Regions from separate parts of the Homo sapiens genome. Here region 2 is linked to region 1. A link means that fine-mapping ties the variant in region 1 to the expression of a gene that starts in the linked region. Tissue or cell type: testis. Region 1 holds a variant in brackets; the other region holds the start of a gene. All regions are shown on one strand. Distances are between the middles of the regions.

What was found. PIP is the estimated chance that this variant, and not a neighbour inherited with it, causes the effect.
Region 2: PALS2 starts here. The variant in region 1 is fine-mapped to the expression of PALS2 in testis (GTEx, PIP above 0.99).

The regions. Positions count from the first base shown.
Region 1 is chr7:24,698,882-24,706,317 of GRCh38, reverse strand. GSDME (gasdermin E) reads left to right here. Exons shown (of 10, transcript NM_001127453.2): 8 at 1-134; 9 at 3,485-3,558; 10 at 7,059-7,436. The coding sequence ends at 7,292. Among named protein-coding and RNA genes, the nearest start is that of GSDME, 55 kb to the left of the region's middle. RefSeq lists silencers at 1,230-1,399, 4,234-4,528. The variant C/G (reference allele first, on the strand shown) is at 2,732.
Region 2 is chr7:24,570,083-24,578,069 of GRCh38, reverse strand. PALS2 (protein associated with LIN7 2, MAGUK p55 family member) reads right to left here and starts at 4,618. Exons shown (of 12, transcript NM_001303037.2): 1 at 4,477-4,618. RefSeq lists enhancers at 3,750-3,869, 3,920-3,969, 3,915-4,414, 5,280-5,379, 5,400-5,469 and 1 more and a silencer at 4,070-5,139.

The sequences.
Region 1 (7,436 bases):
CCGGCAGCAGCAGGACCTTGTGGCCTTCCTGCAGCTGGTGGGGTGCAGCTTACAGGGTGGGTGTCCGGGCCCCGAGGATGCAGGCAGCAAGCAGCTGTTTATGACAGCCTACTTCTTGGTCAGTGCCCTCGCAGGTAAGGAGAAAAGAAAATGAAAGAAATGGCTGCTGCTGCTTTAAAATGCTTTGCCTACTATCTATGCTTCTGGGGACACAGAGGTGGTAACTGTGGAAGATATGGTACATACAGGTCCTTCCCTTCTGGTACAGGGAGGGTAAGAGGTGGGAGGCTGATGGGAAACCCCCCTTCGGTCTCGAGTCTGTGCCTTTCCATCCAGCACAAGCCTCCCTACTCTCCCGGAGGGCCCTTCTCCCTCCTCCCCCAGGGAAGGCCACAGTGGGTGCCCCTTTGCCTACAAAAGCAAGCATCTCCCTGACAGGCTGTGGTTCACTCCGGAGTCCCAGCAGAGCTGAGTGGCAGCAACTTTCATTTGCCAACTGCTCTCCTCCAGCATTTCAGTCCTTCTGATCTTTGCAAACTTGTTATTCCCCACCCTGCGTGCTCCTGTCTGGGGCAAGGGGGCTGTGGAGAGCATTCAACCATCCAATGTACTAGGCTGGGAGGCAGAGCTGTGGCTGGGCCCAGATGCACAGCTTCTGCACTGGTCCTGAAATGGCCTCCCAGGGGAGCAGCCATCCAGTTACTGTGGAACAATCTCTGCCACCTCTGTACCCCTCCCATCCGGAACTCGCCATGCCACAGTGCCTGTCACGAGGAAGCTGGGCTTCCTATTCCCTCTCAGAAAAGCCAGTTGTGGCAAACCAGTCCCCACAGCTTCCCTTCATGGTGACACTAGTCAGGACACATAGTTTCTGATACATTCAGGGTTCCTCCCTAGCACCACACAGAAACAGACCCAGTAATCTTCAGTTTTTAAAGAATTAATCTGAGAGAATGCCTGTCCCAACTCTATGTGCTGATAAATATATGCTCTGTCTTGTTCCAACTCATGGATAAATATAGTTTTGACTGGTAAACTGAAACAGGACATAAGACAGAGCCCTGCGGAACTCCACTAGAGACTTTCTCCCAATGTTAACATCCGGGTATTAGAGTCTTTCAGAACAGGCATTCTGTCAGGAGCTAATACACAGGCCAGAGTTCTCCGACTTGTGAGAGGTCTTTTCTTCATATACCCCATTACTTATTGCAGCATTTCTATCAATAGCCTGGATCAGTGATGCCAAGTAGGTAACACAGGGCCAGCATCATGAAAGCACCACAGTCCCCTTCTACTTGAGCCTAGACACAGCATCAAATTCTCTGCAACTGGCTGGGTGTGGTGGCCCCCATCTGTAATCCTAGCGTTTTGGGAGGGTAAGGTGGAAGGATCACTTGAGCCCAGGAGTTCAAGACCAGCCTAGGGAACATGGCAAGACCTCATCTGTACAAAAAATAAATTAGCCAGGCATGGTGGTGTGTACCTCTGTAGTCCCAGCTACTTGAGGGGCTGTGGAGGATTGCTTGAGCCCAGGAATTCAAGGATGCAGTGAACTATGGACGCCATTGCAGTCCAGCTTGGAAAAAAAAAAAAATCTCTGCAAGCTTGCACGCAGGCAGCAGGCCACGCAGTTGACACATAATGTGAGACTGACTTGCTGTTTCTGAATTGGAAACTCAGAGGTAGTGAAATCTTTAGGTGCAGCTGGCAATGTCTAAATTTTTCAACCAATCCTGCCCTTTATTTTTCTGAACTGTGATCTCATTTATATGTCAGTCCCAGTGGAGGCCAGGCTGGCATACAGCCCTTCCATTTGTGCTCTTGCTAATCCTCCGCCCTTCTGAGTTCATTTTTTTTCCTCTTAATATAATCTTCTCTCCTTAAAAACTGAGGAAAGTGCTGGAATAGAAAATGGGGTCTTCGTAGGTCCTCACACCAGTTTCTGGCTAATAGCTGTTTTCAGCACTTCAGTCCCACATGTGACCTGTCTCCTGGGAAGCTTCCTCCACTATTTTGTAACCTTAAGCAACTCCAAAGGTCTCAACTCCTTGGACTCTATTTGTAAAATAGAATTGGTACATGGAAGAGCAATCAAAATAATTTCAGTTCAAGAAACATTTAACAAGCTTATACTATGTTTTAGGCAGTGCTAGGTAAATATCAAGTCTTGGCCCTCCAGGAAATCAGAGTCAAGTAGTAAAATTAGTGGGTAAGCTCGGTAATGCAGATGCTGTTCTTTCATTTCTGTGCCCCTAGCACCTAGTGTACCACACTCAAGATAGCAGCTAAATGGGTAATATGGGACTCAGGTATTTCCAAGAATAAGAGATGAGGATGATGGTTACCTGGGTCCCAGGAGCCACCCTGGAAAGTGAAGGCAGGGCAGTAATGGCAGATGAGATGGCTGGGGACAGAGGCTCAGCTGGATACGCTAGGCCACATAGGCTTTCCGTCTTCACCTTCCTGCTTTGGGGTAAGAGACTACTTGAGAAACTGTGGATCTTCTCTTCAGACAAATGCATACACATTTGAATACCACATTAGGTTCTCTGAAAGAAGCATCCCCCTGGCTGCTGCCCCACCCCCTTAATAGCCTACACTCTCTCTTGAGAACGAGCCATGTACTCTCTGGGTCACACCTCAACAACACACTGTCTTTACAAATAAGGCTGCTAACACATGGCAGGAACAACTGAGTTCCTAACCAGTCCCTCGGCTACCTGATTCAGCA[C/G]GTGACTCATTCTTTTTTGCCTTTTCAGCTCAAAGCTTGTACCCCCAAGGGACTATGGTCCTTTTAAGAACTGTATCTGTGTTTTCCCTGGGAGGTGTTTAATATCCACTTTGAATAACACTGATCTGGCATTCCCTTCCCTGGGGCTTGGCAAGGGCCCTTCTGGTGCAGCCCCTAGCCTGGCACAGCTCTGCTCCAACTTTCTGCTGTTGCTGCTCCTGGCCTCAGGCCACGCTGCACTGATAAAGCTACACTGCATTTTCCTCCCCAAAATGATTGGTGATGGGGTAGAGCCCTTTATAGTTTACACAGTATTCTGACATATGCAAAAACAAAACAACTATGGTAAATGAGGAAACTGAGGCTGAGAGAGGTGTACCTGAGGCTGCAGCCTGAATGTGTGGAGGGTCTCAAACATCACTCTTCTGTCACCAGATGGCAGGGTCTGCTTTTCCATGCTGTTTCCTTTCCTTCCCCCAGAGTCTGGGCAGTTCTTTCCATTTGGTAAATTGAATGTCAAGGAGTATCCTCTGTGGAATGCAGAGCTGGCAGCTGGGTTCCTACATCTGTTTTCTACAAGGTCTTTGCTGCCCATTTAGCACCATTCATTCACTAACTCAGCAACTGCTGAGTACCTCCCCTGCCTGGCTGGCGGGAAAGTACTAAAATATAAGTTAGGTGCCATCCAGGGGCTGGCTCTGTTCCCATGGACTTGTTTTTTTGGACTGTGACTGTGATTTTTCTCTCCTGCAGAAATGCCAGATAGCGCAGCAGCTCTGCTGGGCACTTGCTGCAAACTCCAGATCATTCCCACACTGTGCCACTTGGTAAGCAACCTCCCAGGTGGGACCTTAGAATGGATAGGAATGGGGAAATGATGAGGGGGTAGACATCCAGCAGCCGGTAAAACACCTCTAGGACTTACCACAACAGCTCTTCAAGACACATTAAGTAAGTATTGTTATTAACCCCACTTTTATACACATCCCACCCCATGGGAAGACTGAGACCCAGAGGAAAATGATTTGTCCAAATAACTTGTTAGCAGGTCCAGGACTTCATCCTTGTCTTTCGACTCCAACTCTTATACTTTTCCCATTGTTTGGAGAGAATTTTGGCCAAGGTTTGGTGTTACATTACAATAAAGGGGCCTGACACCATATTATTTGCAATGGCAGTTTTGTGCTAAGACTGGTTTGATTGAGCTCTGCAGCAGATTTGCCAGGGAGGTATCCAGGACTGATCTGTCCCAGGGAGACATAGCTTCTTTCATCCACTTTCAGGAATATCGTTAGCTTGGTGCCCCCTCTGGAAATGTCATTCTAAGAGCATGAGTTAGGTAATGATGAGCTTAGCCCTAGAGAGTCAAGATTAAGCTTTTCCTTTTTAAATTATAGATTGAGCCATTAGTAGAAAGAACCACCAACAGGTTGCCCTGAAGCCACCCTGATGGGGCAGCTAGTCTTGTGTAGCTTTTGCAGATGTTGCTCAGCCTGGGGCAGAGGAGCTGAGCACACACGGTCTGATTATTTTAAGGCCTAATTACTAAAGTCCAAGGCCAACCTGCTATGTTGGCCCAAAGGATCATCTCTCAGAGCTCTGCTGTCAGATCTGGGAAGCAGGTATTGGGGCAGACTGCCTAGACAGGACCCTGACATTTGGTATACATCTACTCTGGGAACACCGAGTAATGTGGTTGGTGCCTTTGTGCATAGCAAAGACATTAGAAGACTATGCAGCATGGCATCATTCCAAGGAGCAGATCAGGTATCACAACTGAAAGATTCCACAGGCCCAGAGGAACATGCATGCTTGTCCACTGACTGCAAAAATGGAACTACTTGAAAATGTGCCAGCATGTGTGTCCTGGGCCAGCTGAGGGTAAAGGCTGGTGGCACAGTCTGGTTATGGAAACAATACGTGCCATTATTCTAATTGTATGCAATGATGAGCAAAACAACAGCTCTGCTTTCAGATCTCAGCTCCTCTTGCAGCAACTGAGTGCTCAGCATTTACTAAGTTAGTCCTTCCCAAGTATTTACAGATTCATCAACTGCAACTGAAGCAAATAAAAAGAAAATCCTGCCAAGCCCATGTTATCTAACTGTTATCTAACCCCTTCTGTGACAAACTCACACTTAGCTGTCCTCCTCCCTGCAGATCAGCTCTAGGACATTTGTATTACCCCCAAGTTCTGCTCTGTTGGTGTTCTAAGAGCAGCAGCCAGAACACATTCGGAGTTCAGAATGGAAGGTATTCTGCTTCTGCACATTCTGCCTTTTGGCACTGCTCAACATAGTCAAAGACCTCCTTTTTCTGTAAAGACCTTCCTGGGTATCTTCACATACCTCCCCTCAGATTTGCAATAGCTCTATTTAAGACATCGAGGTGTCTGCCTCCTGAAGGAATTTGAGCGTCATGTTTCTTTAAGGGATTTACTTAAAACGGCACAAAATCCATCTGCAGCCCTGTCTTTTCTTGTCTAGTAGCCAGGGTAACTTTGAGAGGCTTTCTGAAGGGCTTTTGGGAGTACAGTGCCAGATACACTAACACATTTCCAAGAACTGGTGAAAGGGTGAGTTAGAATCAGTAGAGAATGTTAACTTCACTCCACCACCCTCTGGGTCACCGTTTCCCCCTTATACCTAGAAATGCCTGTGGGCAAAGGGGGTGGTGGATATTTAGAAAAGAAAGCCGAATGCTGCACAGCTCTCATCCACCAGGTGGTAAGGACAGGGAGCCTGCCATGCTGTTGACAGTCTCCAGCCTGCGCCAGTGGGGCTCCTCCTTAATTCACTGGGGTGTGATGCTGTGCTTAAAGAGCAGGTCTAATCTACTCTCTAAAGCACAATCAATAGTTTGCAGTCTGAGCCTAATGGTAACGTTAAGCCTGTGGTTACATTGTGTGAGTTGTATTTGGCGAATCTACAAGGTTCGTGAGGCTGATTTTGATAATAAACCCACAAGTACTTTTACATTCCAGTGAGTGCTACCCTTCAGTCTACCTGGACAAGCTGCATGACTTTCAAGATAGTCACCACTGCTCAGGAAATTTCTGGAATTTTTTCTTTTGGATTCCCTTCAGATTTCTTAAAATTCAGGCAAACTTTCTAGGCTTATTTCATTTTTAATTTAATTTAAAATTTTACTACTTACATTATTAATCAGATCTTGAATGCCTGTTTCAAAATGAAATCTACTGGTAAATTTGTAATTGCTTAAGATTTGTAAAATATTACGGGTACAGATCAAGACCCTAAAAGCAAATCAAATATTTCAAGTATGTGTTGAGCAGTGGAATTAGAGCAGCATCCAAAGTGACCTCGGTGAAGAACACATTGAGTGTCTGTGTTGTAGGCACGGCAGACAAGGTCCCTGCTCTCACGAGCAGCTTAGGGTTAAATAAGGGAAGGTGACTAAACACTATCAAGCAGATTACTTCAGATATAGTAAGTTTATGGATACAACATAATGGAGTAACATAAGGCTGAGTTCTGGGGCTGGGGGTAGCTAGATGGAAAGGGATTGGGAAAGGCCCTCAATGTGGCATTTCAGCTGACAACTGAGTGATGAGAAGGGGAGATCAACAGGGAAATTTGGAAGAAGGAATAACAAGGGAAAAGGTTCTTGAGGCAGGAAGGATAATTAAACTAAACTATGGTACCTACCTTTGAGGAGTTCATGCAAAGATATAAGAAAGTTCTAATATCTTCAGTAAAACAAAAACTAAGCATACTGCATATATGACCAAAGTACATTCTAACCTTTCTAATGTACTGGAGTTAATGGGACTAGTAGAAAGAGTTTGGAGAGTAGGGATTCAGACAGAGGACACTAGACAAATTGGATAGAATCAGGCCTGAGGTCCTGGCCTGGATCAAATATATCATGTTACACCTCAAGGGTTTTCCTGCTCTATTTGGGGAAATTTAAAAAACGACATAGTTGGCCAGGCGTGGTGGCTCATGTCTGTAATCACAGCACTTTGGGAGGCCGAGGTGGGCAGATCACCTGAGGTCAGGAATTTGAGACCAGCCTGGCCAACACGGTGAAACCCCATCTCTACTAAAAATACAAAAATTAGCTGGGCATGGTGGCGCACACCTGTACCAGCTACTCGGGAGGCTGAGGCAAAAGAATCGCTTGAACCTGGGAGCTGGAGGTTGCAGTGAGCCGAGATCACGCCACTGCACTCCAGCCTGGACGACAGAGCAAGACTCCATCTCAAAAAGTTTTTTCCCCCAGAATTACCTACAAGTGCATTACTATCCAATGTGGATTTTTTAGGACATTTTAAAAGTGAATTTGTTTAAATGTGTCATTTCAGCTTCGTGCTCTGTCTGATGATGGAGTATCTGATCTTGAAGACCCAACCTTGACTCCCCTGAAAGATACAGAAAGGTTTGGGATTGTGCAGCGCTTGTTTGCCTCAGCTGACATTAGTCTGGAGAGACTGAAGTCATCTGTGAAAGCTGTCATTCTGAAGGACTCTAAAGTCTTCCCACTGCTTCTTTGTATAACCCTGAATGGACTCTGTGCTTTAGGCAGAGAACATTCATGATGTCATATGTGAACTAGAAGTACGTGTTACTGGCCAAGGCTATTTTTCAGAACTGTTAAAGGTCATATGCACGTTAAAAGTTGACCAATGAAATGAATTTACAGAACAGTTTAAGAAGTGGTGACATTTTGCATGATGAATGAC
Region 2 (7,987 bases), 130 kb after region 1:
CAGGAGGCTGAGGTGGGAGGATCACTTGAGCCTAGGAGTTCCAGGCTGCAGTGAGCCGTGATCACACACACCACTGCACTCCAGCCTGGGGTGACCGAGTGAGATTCTATCTCAAAAACAAAAACAAAAAGAGACAAGATCATTGATATCACGGGGCTTATATTCTAGTGAGTATGGAGATTATAAAATAATATAAAAACATAATTTCAGATACTGATAAATGGTTTGAAGAAATTTTTAAGTAAAAAAGGTAATGGGATTGAGGGGGATGAGGCTAGTGTCATTCTGGAAGGATGGTTAGGTAGCAATGCTTGTCTGAAAAGATGATATTTGAACTACAACATGAAATGATGAAAAGTAGTCACTCATGTAATGATTTAGGAAGAGTTCCCAACAGAGTGAACATAGTGCAAAAGCCCTAAGTTAGGAGCAAGCCATGGCATTGATGAGGAACAAAATGAAGGGCAATGTAGATGAAATATAGCAAAAAGTGGAGGAAGAGGGTAAAGAAATGATAGATTTAAGAGGAAAAGATGTAAATTGGTGAAGGAGGGATTAAATCATGTACAAAACTAGCAAGCAGTAGAAAGGATCTGAAAATAACTTGAGCTTTATGAAATATTCATTATATTGTCTTTAATTCTCATTTTGCCTTGTATCAGTGATAACTCTGACAGATAGGCTTTTAGAAACTTCCATTCCCAAGTACTTAACACAATCCTAAAGTTAGCCAGAGATGAATATATTCCTAAGCAGAAAGTATCTCTTCTAGTACACTATATTAAAAAAAAAAAAAAAGGAAAAAAGGAAAAAAGAATTTTCGGATGAAAGCAAAGTCATCTTAAAGGAAAGAAGGAAAATAACCTAGGATGAAGGAAAAATAGAAACTAATTTTGTTCTGTTCATTACTCTGTGAATATACTTACTATGATAAAGATTATAGAAAGGTCTTTGAATTAGTCTATCATAATTAAGGAAGGTCATAAAACTTAAGTTCTTTCTAAACTACTATAAACGTAGCAGCCTCTGTTTACTGAGTTCATTATTATTGAATTGGACATTAACAAGGTTAAATACTGTCAGAAAAGAAAAAGTAGAAACCAGGCTTTTGACTTTATTACACCTGGTAATAATGGTCACAGCTTAATGGTTAACAAAGTTGTGGGCTTTAATCTTATCTATATGACTATGATAAAGGAAGAACTTCCCCTCTGCGGTGAAATGAACACTAAAATTAGCTACATGGGATGCTTCAATATCTTCTCCTCCAAAAGCTTTTTATAAGAGGAGACCAATTTGTTTAAAGGGTTTGGATATAGATACACTTCACAGAAGAGTGATGATCTTTCCAGATCCTTCCAGACAACTAATATCTGTGTACTCTAAGCAAGCAATTAAACCTACACTGCTTCTAAGATTAATGCAAGTAAAGTCGGATCTTTGAAAGCTATAATGTATTCAGGAATCTTATCTTTCATTATGTTAGAGGCATACTTAGACCACTTAACAGTAGACTGTTAATAACACAGTCTATAAAGAATGATACTTTGTAAGCATGCTGTGAGTTAAAGAAAGAAAAGTCATTAAACACCTTGATTGAGACTTGCTTCAGAGTGCATCCTCCTCAGCACACTACCCAGCAGTTTGACAAAGTGCCCAGGATTAGCAGCCAATGTATGTAAAGAAGGAATATGGTCAAGCCCAATTGTAAAGTCTCCCCCCAGTGGTCAGATACAAGTAACAGAAAAGGAGGAAAATCATTGCAGCTTCTGTGAGACTGAACAGGAAGACTAAACAAAACTGGTCCCTACAACAAAAAAATAAAATCTTTAATTCAATACTAGCACCATATCAGGAAAGAGATCTCTTGTGCTTATCTGCTCTTATATTTATAAATGTGAAGACTACTTTTCTAAAGAACCTACAGTTAAAACAAAACTAGCATAATTTTTCTCCGCCTAAGTTTTAAGGAATAACTGACATATTCCCAAACAGTTCAGTATTTATCAAATGGGTAAGTGTTCATTCTTCCTGAAATAAACATCAGCACATCACTTACATGGTTAACTATACTTACCTGAAGTAGAGTTCTGATTTAAAAAAAAAAAATCTAGTCACTCATCAAGTGAATCACTCTGGAAGGAAAAATTATTAACTATTATATACCTAATGTGAATTTTACAAGATACTCTTTTTCAAAAGTCACCTAGCAATAGGTAATTTATATTAGAGTGATGTCAAAAGTATAAATGCGTCCTCTTACCTCTTTTAATTTTATTTTCTGGCTGTTTTTTTACAATTAGCCTTTGACTAGCACTAATCCTGTATTATTTGTAACTCTCTCAGCAATAATATGATGCTACTCCATTTTTACAAAGCTCAGATGTCAAAAATATGAAAGACATTTAATTAAAATATCTGTTTTATTCTGCTAATCCATTATTAAGTAGTAAAGCATGTAAAGGGATAGTAAATATTCAAACAAGCAACTTCAATTTTAAAACAACTTTTTAAAAAGATAACACATAGAGTCACAGTTATGTCTTCTTGGTTATCTCAAGCTAAAAAGAGGGGGAGTGGGGAGAGAAAGAGAGAAGCAGGCTATGTAGTGCTCTGGAACAATTTCAGCCTAAAATGAGACTCAGAAGCAAACTGCTCCCTCAAATGTTTAAAAATATGATTCATTTTTAAAAATCCAACAGTTGGCCTAAAGAAAAAAAAAGATTCTGTCTTATATAGAGCTACTAGACTTGCTTAAACACCTTAATTTTTCCAGTGTTGATTTAACCTAGAATGCAAAATAATTCATTTTGACATTCCAGATGTCAAGAATTCGGTGGCATCAGTAAGGACACATACACACCTCTTTCATAAAGATGGTGTGCAGTCTCCATAGGACAAAATTGAGCAATTAAAAGTGTTACCATTTGTGTATTATGTAACCGTAGTCCAGAATGAAGGAAACATGGACCTTAAAGAGTAACACATCGTGCAAACACGCATTTAAACACCTATTTAAATATATGATAGATTTAAGGTACAAATGACCTCAAAATGACACAACCCACAAAAGTTCTTTGTTTACTGTTAACAAGGCCTCAGAAGACATAACTATAATCAGGCCTACTACCCACTACCCTATCATTGCACAGTAGATGCCTACAATAAGCAATATTACTTGAGGTCCGTTGCTATACCTATATACGGAAACTATATACCGCATTACTAAAAATGTTACTTCGCCTGGTATATTCGACCAACATAAGTTTACAAATGATTTGCAAAATTTCACGGGAAGAAATGGCTGCTAAATCATACTCCAATTGAAACGCATTTTAACGCACCCCAAACGTTCTCAGCTACACTACAAGACCACTTGTAATATACTTGAAGCACAAAGTAAAATTCCAACACTCTCCAAAGGCGTAGGAAAGAATAAAACGTGGCTAGCCTGACCTTACCCGGCTGTTTATAAGTAATGCGGAGAATTTTCTGAGCTTCCCCGGCAGTCTTCAATTCTCTCCCTCGCTTCACCCCCACCCCCTACACAGATGCACACCCAACTGATGGAAGTTTAACAAATGTAATCTCGAGCTGCAATCCCAGAAACTGGTAGGATTGAGAATAAACTCCCAGTAAAGTGTTAAAAAGTCCTTCTGCAAAAAAACATCTACCAACCAATCCACATCCTGTCACCACACGGTCGGATACCTCAATCGACTCCCCTGCTGACCCTCCACCCAGCCAAAATAAAAAAGCCCCAGCACCTATTTGGTTTCAGACAAACGTACCGAGAATCCGCGAGCACGATCTCAGCAGCGAACGCCCCCGCGGCAGCCTGTGCTCGGCCCACAGCCACTTTGGCCAAACAACTGGAGTCTCGTACCTCGGAAGTAGCGGCGGTAGTTGGAGAAAGCCTCCTCCCCTACCAACTCCGAGCTCGGGAGAGAACCGGGAGCCGGCGGAATCACCCCCTCTCGGGACAGACCCCGGAGGTGTCAGTCACAGCAACGCCGCCCCCAGGCCGGCTCTCCATTCAGGCTCCACCGCGACTCCCGCCGCAGAGGTGTAGGCACCCAAGCCCCGCGCCCGAAGGGGCCCCGCGCGTCTGCGGCCCTAGCCCCAGTCGGGGCCGCGCCGGGGAGCGCGTGGGGAGCGGCGGCAAGCAGCATGGGCCAGACACGTTGCCGAGCTCCGGCCCGCCCAGCCGCCCGCAGCCAGAGAGGCAGGAGCCCGGCCGAGCGCCCCTTCCGCGCGGGCCGGGCTGGGGGCGGCCAGCAGCCTCCCCGACCGCGGCGCCGCCGCCGCCGCCTGCCGGTCCCTCTTCCCCGCGCCCGCCGAAGCCCAGGTGCCGAGGGGGGCGGGGCGGGCCAGGGTCCCCGCGTGGCGCGCCGCGCCGAGCAACAGGGCGCCCCCGGCCGGCCCGGCGCGCGGCGCGACCGTTACCCGAGCGGCGTGGGGGTCCAGTTAACTCACCGGCTCGCACCTCAGCCGCCTCCGCGCCGCCGCTGCCGCCGCTCCCGGTCGCTCCCCGCCGCCGCTGCTCTCCCTCAGCCACAGGCGCCGCCGAGCAGCCCCATCTGCAAACTCGTGGCTCGTAGTTGAGAACTGGAAATGCGTCTCTCACTGCCCTCCGCCTCCCTCTCTCTCCTCCCCCTCCCTCGCTCCCCACTCTGCCCCAGCTCCGGTCGCCCCCGCCGCTGCCTCCGCGCGCGCAGCCAGCCGCGCCTCAGCCGCCCTCCTCCTCCTCCTCCTCCTCCTCCTCCTCCTCCAGCCGCCGCCGCCGCCGCCGCTTGGGCGCGCTCCCAGCCGGCCTCGCGCGTGCGCCGGACGTCGGGGAGCGCGCGCTCGGGCGCGAGGAGGTGCCACCGCCTCCGGAAAGCCGGGCCCCGCCCCTCCCGCCGCGGCTGGGCGCCCAGGTGGAGCCCCCTCCCAGCTTCTGAGCGCCCAGACTGACTGCGCTCTGCGCCCGGCCGGCTCGCTTCAGGGGTCCCGGACCTGCGCCCGCGAGAGAGGGCTGGTCGGACCCAGTCCCCGCCGGGTCTCCTGGGCCGAAGTCGCAGCTGTCTGTCAGCATTTACGGGTGGGCAAGATACTCCTCGGGGCATAAAACAGGCTCCGCCCTGACCTTTCTGAGAGTTTTACATTCAAGAACCCAGTCGTGGGGCACAAAAGAGAAATGGAACGAGAAGAAAAGCCTCTGGAAAAATCTCCCCCTCCCCCTTCACAGACTCCACTGGATCTGATGTGTATTTGGCAGGTTCTACGGCGCTGACTGTGTCCTTCATTAATTTTTTCCCAAAGGCCCGACCGGGCAGTGTGATTCACACCCGAGGAAATGCATGGACACTGGCTCTTTTCATAGCACCGAGGCTCCCGTGGAACTCCCTGGGTCGGCTTTGCCAGACACTCCCTGGACACAGTTGTTCAGCTCCTCCCCAGCACCTGGGCTTCCCAGACCTCAAAAGGGTGGGGTTGGGGAGGGCATGCCATCCTTTCAGCCTGGACTCTGCGTAGAGCTTGGTGAACTGTGATGAGTGTCCGGATGTGTAGATGACACATTTTGACAGAAGTGCAGATTTAATTTTTCAGTTGAAAGGAACTGAGCAATGCACTGCAGCAGAGACTTCTGGCTAGAAAAACATAGCAAGGCAGCCAGAGAACTTCCGATCCCCTTAAAAGAGCTCTGTGAACCCTCAGACCTGTGACAGGCGGCTTTTGGAAAAACTATTGTGTTCTTCCTAAAATTGAAGAATGTAATTTACATTTTACAAAATGCTTACTGCAATCTTTTCAAACCATGAACGTAGAAAGTGCAAGTCAAACTTTACGTGTGAGGAGTGTTATGAGGTGGCCTCCTCTGTGCAGCCTTTCCTGGCTTCTCTTGGGCACCTTGCACAAACCAGACCATTAATAAGTGTTTGCAGAATAAATGCGTGCATCATGGCCCTTTGGATTCAGAGATGAAGTTATAAGTTGTATTGTCTCCTCTCTTTGTGAATGTGGCAGGCATGGAAGGGAGAGAGAAAATACTATTGATGAGATGTATTAAGAAGGTCCAGTGTCCAAAACAGTGATTTTTGTGTTTATCCTCAACCAAGCATCAAAGATTAATTTACTTTTCCATTAGGATCATTAATTTTGCAAACCAACATGCAGGGGGGCCTTGTACAGTGTTAATTTAGAACCTTCTTTCCTGGAACCACAAACCCAGGCAAAGGTAATTGGAAGCATTTAAGGAGACTCAAACGTGCCCAGGGCACAGAGTAGCTTTGGGCCCCCTGTAGTCAGGATGGCTGGATGAAATGAAGTGGAGTGGGCTCGGAGCCCAAGGCAGAGACAAAGCGGAAGGATGGGGTTTGTCTTCTCGGGGTGTCAGCAAGACCTTTCAGGTCCTTCTTGCTGCCCCAGGCCCACTTGCTTCTCACAGGACACCCATGGGTCCTCCCTGCTGTACCCTACCCAGGCTTGTGAACTCTTTTCCCTTCTGACTCTTAACCTTAACACATCCCCTTGGACCCAGCCACTTAGTTACTTGCCCTGAGCTTCTCTGGGGTTGGGGTGGGAGGTAGGGTATGAATGTCATTTCCAGATATGTTAGTGATCCTTAATAGTGCACTTTTATTTCCTCAAGGGTCTTCTGGAAACAATGTCCTAACCTACTCTACCCCTGCTCCCTGCAAGTAGAATGATGTTAACTGAGGAAGTTTTAGGGAGGGAGGGTTTGGGGTAGGCTCTGCCCCTCAAATTACATGCAGACCTACCTGACTTAAAGCTGGCACCACTCCTGGCCAACTGCTTTATCTCTGCATCTACCAGAGACCCAGCATTTGGGAGCAGGAATACAGGAACAATTATCTTTCATTTGCAGTTCCAAGTCTGTGCTCTAAGTAATGACAGCAGCTATCAGATGGAGGCTTATCACTGCCGTAAGACTCAGCTTCATTCTTAGAGTCAGAAAAATGATTTTGCTCCAATAACTGTCTTTGATTGCTCCCCTTCAGAAAGCTCTTGCCGGTGAAGTTCCTCTCTCAGTGTCAGATGAGTATTGTATCAAATACTCATATACAGTTATAAAAGGAAACACTATTTCCTTTTATAAATGATATTCCCATTTTATAACATTCTGCCCTTCCTCTAAACTTTAAAGGTGGGACATGCCAGGATAAATTTAAAGTGTTCTCAGTTAAACATTGGAACTCCCATCATTGGTTCCCAACTCAGCTTTCTGAGAGGTCATCATACTGAGACACCACCATCCATTTCCCATACCGGTTACAAATTCTTCATTCCAAGAAAGGGGAATGATATGATTGAGAATGATGGTGGATCTTTCTCTTCAGTGTCCTTAATAGTCTGACTTTTCATTTCCTTCAAGGTTACTCTAAAGGGATCATAATTTTACCACAGCCCAGTATCTCCCAACGGTAATTCAATTTAAAATTTGAATTTTGATTCTTAATTCAGGAGCATCCATCACTCAATTTTGTTTCCTCCTTCAAATGTAAACAACATACACTTTTAATGTGATTACATTTTCTTTTCTCTTCTGACCTGCTTTGCTCCTACAGAAATTGAGAATTTTGCTAATAGCCCCGAATTTTAGCAAAAGCAAATCCTGTGTACTTGTTTTTCAACTAATCCATCATAGTAAAAGCAGTGACACTCCTGGAGGATAGCTTTATTTAAAAATGCAACTGGCATGCATCACAAAGTCCAACCAAGTTTTCCTTCAGAATACTTTATTTAGCTTCACTCCTTTTATCTCTGCTCACAAAGCTAGGTCAGATTCCAATTTCCAGCCTCCTTGCTAACCTTTCTAATTCTAGCCTCTCTCTTGCTTCCTTGCAATTTATCCTATACTCAGAGCAGTGCTTCTTAATTTTTGGCTCTTTATTGAAATCACCCAGAGAACTTTAAGAAACAAAACAAAGCACTGATGCTTTGATGCCATCCCAGACTTAATTGCTCTGGAGCACAGCCTGGG